Linked DNA regions of Homo sapiens: region 1 is linked to region 2. The links come from fine-mapping of genetic effects on gene expression. A gene starts in region 2. The other region holds a variant in brackets. All regions are shown on one strand. Distances are between the middles of the regions.

Region 1 (2,907 bases), 62 kb after region 2:
CACATATAAGACTAATTTGGGACATTGGCAAACAGTATCTCCCTGCTAATAGTTGTACAGACTTTGATCATAGTACCTCTAGTACCTCACCCATTATCTTCCTAGAATGGAAAGGCTCAAATCAGGTGTATTAGGCCATTCTTTCATTGCTATAAAGAAATACCTGAGACTGGGTAATTTATTTTTATTTTGTTGAGATGGAGTCTTGCTCTGTCACCCAGGCTGGAGTGCAGTGGTGTGATCTTGGCTCACTGAAACCTCCACCTCCTGGGTTCAAGCGAGTCTCCTGCCTCAGCCTCCCAAGTAGCTGGGACTACAGGCATGCACCACCACGCCTGTCTAATTTTTGTATTTTTAGTAGATACAGGGTTTTACCATGTTGGCCATGCTGGTCTCGAATGCCTGACCTCAAGTGATCCACCCGCCTTGGCCTCCCAAAGTGCTAGGATTACAGGTGTGAGCCACCGTGCTCAGTGAGACTGTGTAATTTATAATGAAAAGAGGTTTAATTGGCTCGTGATTCTGCAGGCTGCACAAGCATGGGCCAACATTGCTCAGCTTCTGGGGAGGCCTCAGGGAGCTTTTACTCATGGCAGAAGGTGAAGCAGGAGCAGGCTTATCACATGACAAAAGCAAGAGGAAGTGAGAGAGAGTGGTGGGGAGGTGCCACATACTTTTACATGACTACATCTTGCAAGAATTCACTCACTGTTTTGAGGACAGCACCAAGAGGATGGTGCTCAACCATTCATGAGAACTCCACCCCCATGATCCAGTCACCTCCCATCAGGCCCCACCTCCAACACTGAGGATTCCTTTTATTTATTTATTTATTTTCTTTTTTTTGAGACAGGTCTTGCTCTGCACCCAGGCTGGAATGCAGTGGCGCGATCTCAGCTCACTGCAACCTCCGCCTCCTGGGTTCAAGTGGTTCTCCTGCCTCAGCCTCCGGTGTAGCTGGGATTAAAGCACGTGCACCACACCTGGCTAATTTTTGTATTGTTAGTAAAGATGGGGTTTCACCATGTTGGCCAGGCTGGTCTCGAACTCCTGACCTCAAGTGATCTGCTTGCCTTGGCCTCCCAAAGTGCTGGGATTATAGGAATGAGCCACCGTGCCTGGCCTAAGGATTACATTTTGACATGAGATTTGAAACAAATATCCAAACTGTATCATCAGGTGTAAAGAGAAGCAACCTTACATCTGTCCTTAGTTCTCTCTTTTTTATTTTTTGTCACCCAGGCTGGGGTCTTGAACTCCTGACCTCAGGCAATCCACCCACCTCGGCATCCCAAAGTGCTGGGATTACAAGCGTGAGCCACTGCACCCAGTGTCTTTTGTCCTTTAACTTCCATGGCCAGCTAAAAACTTTATCTGCATTTTAATTAAGTTAAAAATTAATCAGAAAAAAGAAATTAATCAGAAAATTAATCAGAAAAAAAGAAACTGTAGCATAGCCCTTTCTATGCTACAGCTCAAGGCAGCTGTTCTAGGTTGATGGACAGCTCTCTTCCATGCAGTGATTCAGGGAACTAGGGTGTCTATATTTTATATGTCTGACATCCCCTTGGCTTCATTGCACTGGTAGAAGAAGAAACAGCATGGAAGAGGAAATTTGCATAGAATCCCAGCCTAGGAATGGATCACATTTCTCTGTTCATGTTCTATTTGAGAGGATTTGATCATATAGCTGTGCGTGTCACAAAGGAGGCTGGGAAATGTAGTG[C/T]AGCACTCTGCCTGGCTACAACCCTATTACTGTGTAAAGAGAGAGAAGATTTTGTTTTTTTGTTGTTTGGCTTTTGTTTTGAGACAGGGTCTTGCTCTGTTGCCTAGGTTGGAGTGCAGTGGTGCAAACATGGCTCACTGCAGCCTCAACCTCCCATGTAGCTGGGATCACAGGAACACATCACCATGCCTGGCTAATTTTTGGATTTTTTGTAGAGATGGGGGGTCTCACTTTGTTGCCCAGGCTGGTCTTGAACTCCTGGGCTCAAGTGATCGTCCCACCTTGGGCTCCCAAAGTGCTGGGATTACAGGCGTGAGCCATCACACGCAGCCAGAGAGAGCAGATTTGGGTGAATAGCTAGAGGCCCTCGGATGCGAACAGACCAGCATGCTTGAGAAACTAAGGTTGGTGGGGCTGGCACACACCAGCGGAGAGTTAGGAGATGAGTCAGGGAGGGAGGCTGGATCAGATCAGCCTTGGAAGCCAGAGAAAAGAGTATGGACTGTATTCTAAATGCTATGACAGTAGGCAGAGGCTGCAGTCAGCTGAGAACACGCCACTGCGCTCCAGCCTGGGTGACAGAGCGAGACTCTGTCTCAGAAAACAACAGGCTGGGCGCGGTGACTCACACCTGTAATCCCAGCACTTTAGGAGGCTGAGGCAGGTGGATCATGAGGTCAAGAGCTCGAGACCAGCCTGGCCAAGATGGTGAAACCCCAACTCTACTAAAAATACAAAAATTAGCCAGGTGCAGTGGCAGGAATCTGTAATCCCAGCTACTTGGGAAACTGAGGCAGGAGACTCACTTGAACCCGGGGGGGGCGGAGGTTGCAGTGAGCCAAGATGGAGCCACTGCACTCCAGCCTGGGCGACAGAGTAAAACTCCATCTCAAAAAACAACAACAACAAAAAATAAGAATAGAATCATTTTTCCTGGGTCACTGATTTGGAAATTAAGGCAAAGTGACTTGCCTGAGGCCCTAGCATGAGTCAGTTGAGGCTTTTAATTCTTGTTGCCTTTTGACTCAGAGTCCCATGCACTTCTCATGAGATCAGAAAAGTCTTGTGCAATAAATGAATGAGCTTCAATTTCCAGCTTAAGTGACTCCCAATAACAAATAAGTATCTTGTGTTTTTCAGAGTCACCCTTTTTTTTTTGGTTTGCTTTTTGGGGTTTTTTA
Region 2 (2,907 bases):
GGGATTACAGGCGTGAGCCACCGCGCCCAGCTCCTCTAATTTCTCTTTGTAAAAGCCTTCAGCTGCTAATTCTCCCTTTCCTGCCACCAACAGCCTACTTACTACCTACTTACCTGCACCCACAGCCATCTTATTTGCTCCTTCTCTCCTGTTAAAATGGAAAAGGGCTCCCTACCATGGAGGGGGAGTGGGAGTAAATGGAAAGATGCTAATCTGGCATCCATTACAAGTTCATCTTTCAGTTTTGGTTTTCTTACTCATCCGCACCTTAGTTCTGGGCCTCTACCACTCATCAGCTGTGTGCCTTAAAAACAGGCCATTAAAGTAGCAAATATTTATTGAGTAGATTCTAAGCTGTGCCCAAAAAGGCACTGCGCTAGGTGGTAGGAGTTGCTAGGGCTAGGAAACAGACACAGTCCAAGTAGAGAGAAAATTATTTACAAGACAGGGGAATGGAGCCTTGGAGGAACTGACCTATGTGGCTGGGAGGGCAGAGAATGTGGGAAGAGCTCGGAAGAAGGGGCTGGGGAGGTAGGCGTGGGCCACAGCCAACTGGCTTCTGTAGACTAGGGAGGGTAATGATTTTGGTTTCAATCCTAAATCACTAAGACAGGAAGTGAATTACTCTGTCGGAGCCTCAATTTCTACCTCGAAAAATATGTTTTATTACTAACTCCTGTACTAGATTGAGAGTTACGGAGAAGGATTTATCCTTTTATTCATTTCTGCATCGCCAGCGCCCGACACATGGTAGGCGCTTAATCAATGCCTGTTCGGTGAATAAATAAGACCGGGGACTCCTCCACAGACTTCTGTCATTAAGTCAACCAGTCAGCAGAGATTTCCTTCTCCGCGTTCCTTTCCTTCCCTCCCCTTTTCTTGCCCTTCCTCCCTCTCCTCTTCCACGCCCCCTTCCCACTCCTCCCCCTCCTATCCTCTCCTGGCTTCCTCCTCCTCTTCCCGGCCCCGCCCCCCGCTGCGTTGCGAAGGCGGGGAAGGCGAGGCGGGCTTTACGGCAGCCGCGTTGCGGCGGGGCGGGGCGCCGGGCGGCCGGCGCGCTTGGCGGCAGCCGTGGGAGGCAGGCCGGCAGGCAGACGGACTCGCAGGCGTGTGGCGGCGGCCGTGCTTGCTAGTGAGGGCGGGAGGGAGTGACTCACTGAGCGTGTGTGAGGGAGGGAGCGAGCGAGCGAACGAGCAGCCGGCGCCGTCCTCCCGCAGCACCAGCCAGGCCACGCCGCCGCCTCTTCCCCTGCGCCCCGCGCCCAGGCCGGGCCGAGCCGAGCCGAGCCGGGTCGGGCCCGGGCCATGCTGCTCACCGTGTACTGTGTGCGGAGGGACCTCTCCGAGGTGACCTTTTCCCTCCAGGTCGACGCCGACTTCGAGCTGCACAACTTCCGCGCGCTGTGCGAGCTCGAGTCTGGCATCCCCGCAGCCGAGAGCCAGGTACGCCGGGCAGCGAGCCGGGCCTGCCCCGGAGCTAAGCCCTCCCCGCCTCGGGGCCTCACTCCCTCCCTTTGCTACTGGTGAAGAATTGGGGGCTGGGGGGAGCAAGGATAGCCATTCTCAGGTCACCCCCGCATCCGGAAAGGAGCTGGGGAGCTGGCATCAGTAGCTGCCCTCACACACTCCGAGCATGGGGTGGGGTACGAGGAGAGGGAGCGGAGAACCTGACCGCAGACGCACCCACTGCAGCGTGAGGGGCGCGTGGACTGTTGAGCAGCGCTAACCCTCCCCACCTTTGGCTCTTTGGCCCTTCCCTGTTTCTAATCCCGAGTGTAGGATATCGTTGTGGACCTCAGAAGCAGCCCTGGGTTTGCTAGGATTCATACATCCTGCAAACCAGAAATACCAGTTTGGATCACTGTGGTAGATAGATGTTCCTCTGCTTTTTTTTTTTTTTTTTTCTGGAGAGGGTTTCTGCTTAAATATACGCAGTTTACCTTTAAATGCACAGATTTGCACTTCCGGTGAAAGAAAAAGTTTAAGACTTGCACTACCTCATTTTGGGGTCTTTGGAAATGCTCTTTACCCACCACATGCGTTTCTGGTTAAATTCTTTTGAAAAACAGTACCTATTGGTTCAACTCAAGCTGTTTGTTTGTTTCGGTTCTACCCTGGTAGTAAGCCAGAAGGCCCTTTTTCTTTCAGGTCACAGTTCAGAGTTTGGGTCAGTTCAAAGCTCAATGCTTTAAAAGGATATTTGCTTGGAAACGGCCTAGTATCAGTGCTGTTTGGTGGTTTCATTTCCCTACTCAGCTTGCTGGAAAGAAGTTCAGCCTCTCATATTTTAACTAAGCAAAGTAATTCTCAAAATGCTTTGGGGCTGCCCCTAGTCTTTATCAAACAGAATCGGTGACACTAACGCTGTAAACTTTACACTAAAACACTTAGATCATGACTTAATAAATTTAGCCTGGAGGAAATAGTCTAAACATTAAGAAAATTATAGAGGTCTCCCAAGTCTCCATCAAGTAAATCTTGATTTTCTACTGCAGTTATGAAATAGTTTACAAAACGATTGCCCAACTGCAGCTTGTTCTGCTGTCTTATGGTAAACACGTGTCAATACTTTGTTCAGAAGTATGATTCCTTTACACAATGTGAACTTTAGAACCTTGGCATAAAGCTGTTCAGAAAGAATTTAAAAAGTTAATCCACAAAAGCTCAGGAACCAGTTCTGTCAGTGAATGCCTCATGTGGAGAACTAGGAAAGGACTGTTTAAATAGAGAAAATAAACTCTTCAATTTTTTTTCTTTTTTTGTTTTTGTTTTTGAGACGGAGTCTTGCTCTGTCGCCCATGCTGGAGTGCAGTGGTGCGTTCTCGACTCACTGCAACCCCAGTCTCCCGGGTTCAAGCGATTCTCCTGCCTCAGCCTCCTGAGTAACTGGGACTACGGGCGCGCGCC

Direction of the effects. Positions count from the first base shown, and alleles are read on the strand shown. Sizes are in standard deviations (SD) of each study's normalised expression.
For the expression in monocytes after Pam3CSK4 of the gene that starts at base 1,093 in region 2, allele T in region 1 goes with a lower level than allele C (moderate effect, 0.60 SD a copy in Quach 2016).

The links. PIP is the estimated chance that this variant, and not a neighbour inherited with it, causes the effect. A credible set is the group of variants that fine-mapping cannot tell apart.
Region 1: its variant is the best candidate, but not a certain one, in a credible set for the expression of DDI2 in monocytes after Pam3CSK4 (Quach 2016, PIP 0.68).

What each region holds. Positions count from the first base shown.
Region 1 is chr1:15,678,094-15,681,000 of GRCh38, forward strand. No RefSeq gene overlaps it. Among named protein-coding and RNA genes, the nearest start is that of PLEKHM2, 4.8 kb to the right of the region's middle. RefSeq lists a silencer at 541-1,088 and an enhancer at 1,791-2,291. The variant C/T (reference allele first, on the strand shown) is at 1,727.
Region 2 is chr1:15,616,366-15,619,272 of GRCh38, forward strand. DDI2 (DDI proteasomal shuttling factor 2) reads left to right here and starts at 1,093. Exons shown (of 10, transcript NM_032341.5): 1 at 1,093-1,443. The coding sequence starts at 1,306. RefSeq lists a silencer at 847-1,416.